2 linked regions of the Homo sapiens genome follow. The protein of the gene in region 1 interacts with the protein of each later gene in a biochemical or structural test. Each region holds a gene or a part of one and is shown on either strand. Other genes may lie near its edges.

The links. The genes of interacting proteins can lie anywhere in the genome.
Region 2: the proteins of TRIM6 (region 1) and RIGI form a complex in vitro, tested with the Homo sapiens proteins (one study listed by BioGRID).

What each region holds. Positions count from the first base shown.
Region 1 is NC_000011.10:5,610,026-5,613,588, reverse strand, and holds the end of TRIM6 (tripartite motif-containing protein 6), read right to left. Parts: intron 3,445-3,563; coding exon 3,344-3,444; intron 3,055-3,343; coding exon 3,028-3,054; intron 2,813-3,027; coding exon 2,247-2,812; 3' UTR 637-2,246; downstream 1-636. Other genes in the region: TRIM6-TRIM34 (tripartite motif-containing 6 and tripartite motif-containing 34), read right to left, coding at 3,028-3,054, 3,344-3,444.
Region 2 is NC_000009.12:32,488,116-32,491,770, reverse strand, and holds part of RIGI (antiviral innate immune response receptor RIG-I), read left to right. Parts: intron 1-350; coding exon 351-470; intron 471-2,319; coding exon 2,320-2,427; intron 2,428-2,883; coding exon 2,884-3,037; intron 3,038-3,567; coding exon 3,568-3,655.

The DNA of each region.
Region 1 (3,563 bases):
GAACTTCCACCAGCCCCATAGGTCCCAGTCAGCTGGCCCTATCTCCTTTTATATCTCTTCCAATTGAAACGCAGACCAGGATAAGGAGTTTGCATCCAGCCTCTGGGCTTCCACAGATATGATCTCCCAAATATTATAAAACGGTGCCTTAGAACAAACCAGTAGTGAGCTTTTACTATAATCTGCACTACTTTATCTCACCATAGACACCCAAGCTGAGCCTTGATAACAAATCAGTGTTTCATCAAACCATGAAGGAGCTTCAAGTGCCCAACAGACTGAGGACTAACGGCAGGGGCCAGAGTCTGCAGAATCATTCTCTGGTCATGAGCCCTTTCTATGATCTTCCAAATTTCTACACTTCTAGATATGTTGAGATCTTCTTTTCTCTGTCATTACCTTCCATAAAAATGCCTCAGGGCAGCTGGGAAGGTGCAGGTTCTGTAGAGATAAACATATGTGCCTTGAAACCTCCTCTGTATCCTGAGTCCATAGGCTTTTACACTAGGGCTCACTTAGGGACAGAAATTTCATTATAGGATCTACTCCAGAGTTGTCCAATAGAAATACAATGTAAGCCACATATGTAATTTTAAGGTTTCTAGTATCCACATTAAAAAAGTAAAATGAAACAGGTAAAATGAATAACATACTTTATTTAATCCAATAGAGCCAACATATTATCATTGCAATACACAAAGGAAAAGTTATTAGTGAGATATTTTACATTATTTTTTGAAGTAGGTATTTGAAATCTGGTATATATTTTATACATTGAGCACATCTCAATTCAGACTAGGCATGTATGAAGTACTCAACAGACATTGGTGGCTCCTGGATACCATATGGGACAGCCAGTGCCATTCTCATCCTTGATATTTGTTTCTACCCTCACATGTACCTCTTAATTTCTTTTATAGCTGGTTCAAAAAACATATTGCACCTCTCTACCAAAGTCATAGCAGCTCACTCAACAGCTGTTTGTTCCTGCGCATAAAGAGAGTGTGGAAAAGCTGGAAGAAATCATCCTCTTCCTTTAAGTGCTTTATATTGTTCATATTTTCTCTTTGTGTTTTCTTTCTATTCTGAGAGAAAAATATGTATTGGATTGTTTTTCTCTCCCCACTACTCTTTTGTTTTTACTGCAATTAATTTGAAAGACGTATTTTTTTTTATTGTTCTATTGCTACTCTTAAATGTAGAGAGGAAGGCCAAAGGTTGTAGTGAAGATTGTAGTGAAGACTCTCTTCAATTTGAGTTTGAAGCTACCCAAATTATCATTATAATGGTTTGGTTTTAGAGCTCAATCCTATACATACTTATACAAAAACAAAGTAATTTATTTGCTTATTATTGCATTTTATAGAACCTGGCAAAGATATTACAAGAATGTAAAAATACAGGCCAATTTCTTTCATTAACATAGATGAGAACAAAATCTAAACAATACGTTATCAAAATAAATCCAGTATTGCATACAACAAATAATAATGGTGTATTTCAGCAAGTTGTGGTAACAAATTGAAGTAAATCAATGTACTAAGCCACATTAACAGAACAAAAATGATACACAATTGTCTCAATAATTTACAGAAAAGACATAGGTAGAATACGAGTTTTCATTTTATACAAAAACTTGTAGTAAATTAACAGATCAGAACTTCCTAAATTTGATCCCCTGCATCAATCAAAAAAAACCTGCATCAAATACTATGCTTAATGGCAAAATACTGAAAGCGCCCCCTATCCACCTCAAGACCTGTCATCAGTCAAAGATGCTTACTCTCACCACTGGGTGCATCCTAGTACTGAGTAACTGTTTAAAACGAAAGAACTGTCTGGGCGCGGCGGCTCACATCTGTAATCCCAGCACTTTGGGAGACCGAGGCGGGTGGATCACTTGCGGTCAGGAGTTCGAGATCAGCCTGGCCAACACGGTGAAACCCTATCTCTATAAAAATACAAAAATTAGTTGGGCATGGTGGTGGGTGCCTGTAATCCCAGCTACTTGGGATGCTGAGGCAGGAGGTTCGCTTGAACCCAGGAGGCAGAGGTTGCAGTGAGCCGAGATTGCGCCAGTGCACTCCAGCCTGGGCGACAGAGCGAGATTCCATCTCAAAAAAGATTCAAAAACCAAAAAACAACAAAAGAATTGAGAACACAGAAAAACAGAAGATCAGAAGGGAGAATCACATGCTGATAAGCCTCAGGGTACTTATCAGAAGTGGGTGGGAACAGAAGAATATTCAAGAGCTTGGACGACGCAGGGTCATAGGAATTACACAGTTGCAAGGATTAAAATATGGACAAAGAGTAGTGGGAAAGTAATATTTAGAGAAAGTGTAGATGGGGAAGCCATGGTTTGTGACATTATAAAAGGAGACAGTACCAGCCTCATAATCTAAGAAAACCCCAACACGGCGAGGGGGCACTGTCATGGAGAGAAGCAGGGAAGGGGAAGAATCCTCATAGGCCCTATATTCATGGTTATGCTGTAACCCAATCACCCAGTATCCACTCTGAGGCTGATACCTGGAGTAAGCACTGTGATTTTGAGCAAAATGGTTGAAAGAGAATGTAGGTCCCAGTGAATTGCTGCATACCCCCAGGATCCAGGCAGTCTTCTTGGCCACATCTACCTCCCAGTAATGCTTACCAGAGGAGAAGTGCTGGGAGCCCAGGACACTACAGTCATAATGCTTTTCCAGACAGGAAGGTCCAGATACTTTAGCTCCCACAAACCTCACTTGTCTCCGGTTTTTAGCCAGGACAAGATTTAAATTAGCTGTGTGTGGATTCAGGGTCACGTCAACTGTAGGAAAAGGTACAACATCAGCAGATGAGAACGGGGACATGGGTCTCGTTATGCTGAGAAGAGGAAACACAGGAAGTGGTTGGAGGAACTGGAACTATATGGCGGGGATGGGGGAGGCATCAACACCTAGGATCTGTGTGGCTATGTCTGGGGAGGGCATGTGAAAGGAGATCAGAATGTGCCAGCCCAAAGAGGCCATGGCTTCTACTTACCCCAGTAGCTTTGGACATCTGTCAGCTCTGTAATGATGAAAAGAGTCAATAATGTTGAATAGGACCAACTGTCTCATGTCTGGTATCTCTCTCCTTACTACATTGAGGGGAATGGTGAGGAATCCTGTGAGGATGTCACCTGGCCATTTCATCTCCCCTTAAATACAAACCGCATCTTCTTCAGCACACTATGTCCCTCCCTCTGGGACCTCCCTCTTTGCCACTATGCTCAAATACCGACTATAGCCTCTATCCCGTTTATTTCTTCCCACGACAGTAATTTCACATCCAAACTCTTTCCCCTGAATCTCCTTACCTCTACACACTCGCAGCATCCTTTTCAGATCTGGGGCTCGGAACATACTTCTCAGCTTTGTAGGGAGAGCTTCTGGCTTCCTCAGGGTCCAGAACTCACTCCTAGAAAGGACAGGACTTCTGAGTTCCCACACTGCTGACTGTGGGTTCCTCCACCACCCATCTCCCTTACCTCCCAAGCCTACTGATGAATTCCAATCCTCCTTTCTGAATACACTTAG
Region 2 (3,655 bases), on another chromosome or scaffold:
GAAAAGGAAGACATGAATGTCTGCTAAATCATGCTCTTTTTTTTTTTTTTTTTTTTTGGTGCATACGAATCCCTCCGAGGTCTTGTTAAAATGTGGATTCTGATTCAGTAGGGCAATACGTTCCACACTTTGAGTAATATAGCTCTAAATTACATTGGAGGTCAACGCCAAATTGAGATTTTAAACTCAAAATGATTCTTTCAACTGTTTTAAAAGGTGAAGGGGAGTGGTTGTGAGAAATTTTAATAGAAGTTAAAAATCTTAGTGTTATGACCATTTTGTGGAGCTTTCACCATCAAAACTATAATCAGATTATGTGAAGATTCTAAGACTTTTTTGGTCTTAAAAAGGTATAAAAGATGTTGAAACAGAAGATCTTGAGGATAAGATGGAAACTTCTGACATACAGATTTTCTACCAAGAAGATCCAGAATGCCAGAATCTTAGTGAGAATTCATGTCCACCTTCAGGTACCTGGTATTGTTTGTCCTTTTCCATAATGGTGCTCTTCTGGTATTTGGTGTGGGGGCTTGTTTTGCAGTACCCAAAGTCACAGCCTTGTGAAAAGTTTTGTAAGGAAAATTAAGAAAGTAAAGAGAATTTATGTTACAATAGATACTTTTTCTATATTTAGAATGCCATTCTCTCCTAGTTCTTCCACTATCTTTTTTTCTTCTTTTACTATCTTTTTTTTCTTCTTCTACCACTAAGAAAGTATGGGCGTGTCTATATTGGAAATGCAAATAGAGTCTTCACCAAAACCCAATGTCTATGAATTCCCAAATCAACCTTGCTTTCTAAATAAATACTACTTCTATTTCTGAGTCACTTGCTCAATTTCCTTTTAGGATCCCTGGGCTGCCCTGCAAGTTGATGAAGTTAGTGTGCTACCCAAATGCGCCTGGCTGAGAGGTTGAGTAGGGGCTGAGATCCAGCCTGTGTCGTTTGCAACACAGTGCACTGAGGGGCTGTGTCCTCCAAGAGGAGCTCCCTTTTGTCATTTACACAAAGGCACTGTATAAGTTAGCTGTGGCCCTGTGAGGCCCCCTTATGCTTCTCAAAGCATATTTTCTTGATGGTTTTATGAGACCGGCAAGTTGCATAATATGCCATAATAAAAAGTTATGTATAAAAGAGTATCAGGAAGGAAATTGGGATTAATAGTGGTGGTAGAAGAAAAATGATATTAGAATAACATCATAAAGAGAAAATGTGCAGATTACGTCTGCAACTGAATGTTACAAGTTTTTTTGTTTTGTTTTGTTTTTTTGGTCATTTCAGAATAAAATCTGTTACCCCTTGGAAAAAAAAAACAGATACATGAATATGAGTTGCTTTAAATTTTCTGACACGTGAAGATTCTTGCATGCCTTTTGTTGTTGTTGTTGTTATTGTTTTTTGAGACTGAGTCTCTCGCTCTGTTGCTCAGGCTGGCGTGCAGTGGCACAATCTCAGCTCACTGCAACCTTGGGTTCAAGTGATTCTCCTGCCTCAGTCTCCCAAGTAGCTGGGACCACAGGCATGTGCCACCACATCTGGTTAATTTTTGTATTTTTTTTGGAGAGGTGGGGATTTCAGCATGTCGGCCAGGCTGTTCTTGAACTCCTGACCTCAAGTGATCCATCCACCTCAGCCTCCCAAGTGCTGGGATTACAGGCATGAGCCACTGCACCTGGCCTTTACATGTCTTTCGTGTGAGTTTAATTCACTTAACCTTTTAGAAATTCTCCCTTTCTCTAAAATGGGTAGGTTAGACTCAGTAGATAATTTCCAAAGTCTTTGCTAGCTCTTAATGATTTATATGCCTACCTGTTATTGAGATAAAGCCTTTGATTATTTTTTAAAACTTCTGGTTATGTTGAGAGAAAATATCATTTGAGAACTTGAAGAACGACAAAGCATTATTGCTCCTTAATAAGAAATTGCTTTGAGAATCCAATGTTAACAGTTTGGTTTTCTTCAAAGATCGTGGGAGGATTTGTTGCTTTTTTCACATACAGCATTGCCTTTAGTAGACAGCTTGTCTTACCCTGAATGGGGCCATTCTTTCTTTGGTTTCTGTTAGCCTTCCATGATTGTATAAAAAATAATTCATGTTTTTTTTTTTTTCTTTCTTGCCATCAATACTTTGTCACTGAGAGAATTCTGTACTTCAAATTAGTGGAAAAGCTAGAATGGTTACCAAGAGAAAGGATTCTAAACTTTCTCCAATGAGGATCTTCTTGCTGGAGTCAGAATTTGTGGACATTAGACTGTAGCTATTGCCGTGATTCCTCAGAGCAGGAACTGTTTGGTAATTTTGCTCCTTTTGTATTCCAGAAGTGTCTGATACAAACTTGTACAGCCCATTTAAACCAAGAAATTACCAATTAGAGCTTGCTTTGCCTGCTATGAAAGGAAAAAACACAATAATATGTGCTCCTACAGGTAAGCCTATTGCCATTACTTACATAGTTTTTCTGTTTGCTTCCTTTTTTTTCTTTTGTTGAATACTGGGACAGAATGGGCAAGTTTCAGTTTTTTCCTTGTTCCATGTGTCTTTTGAGAAAACTGTCCTAATATAATCCTAATGTTTTTTATGGGATTATGTAATTAATTAATTATGTACATTAATGTATTTAATGTATTTTCTTTACCTTTCATGAGAAGGTAAAGAAAAGTGTCCTCTTTTAGCTTGCTTTTGGGTCCTGGCTGTTGGCATGCTACTTAGGGAGCAGCTTGATATTTTTTAGTCATAGTGTAAATTCTGTAATCATTAACATATTTAAATTATCAATTAATTAGTCAGCTCAGTGGTATTAGAAGAGCCAAAAATAAACACCTTTCCAGAGAAATATCTAATATATGAGTTACATGTTTTCTTTTTTCCTTACATGTTAAAAGGTTGTGGAAAAACCTTTGTTTCACTGCTTATATGTGAACATCATCTTAAAAAATTCCCACAAGGACAAAAGGGGAAAGTTGTCTTTTTTGCGAATCAGATCCCAGTGTATGAACAGCAGAAATCTGTATTCTCAAAATACTTTGAAAGACATGGGTAGGTATAATAGTTGCTTCAACTTCTTTTTCTCCAGCTTCATGTAATTGATGTGTTTTCTGTTTTGTTTTTGACAAATGATTTAAAAAAATTTATATTAGATTCAGCTTTTTTATAATCCAGATGTTATCCCTTCATGGATTCAAGTCTTTTTTGTTAGATGTACCAGAAAACTTAAACTCCCCTGGTTTGCCCTTCTATGGGGAGTAAATGACTTCAGGAATAAATTTGATGTTTACGTGGCACATTTAACTTCTTTAGTGATTTTATAATTTATTTGATATTATTCTTTTACGTACTCTTTTCTCTCTTAGTGACTTAAAATAATATATAGTACTATAAATTACAACTAGCTTGGATTTATTGATCTCTTACTATGTGTCAGGCTCTGTGCTAAGGACTTGCCTACAGCTATTCTTCTTTTGGACTCAGGGAGAATTTAATCAGTTGATGTTCTGATCTAGCATTTCATCTTTGTGGTTCCTTATCCACATCGTGGTTAGTAATATGGAATTTCTGTCATTTCCCAGGTATAGAGTTACAGGCATTTCTGGAGCAACAGCTGAGAATGTCCCAGTGGAACAGATTGTTGAGAACAATGACATCATCATTTTAACT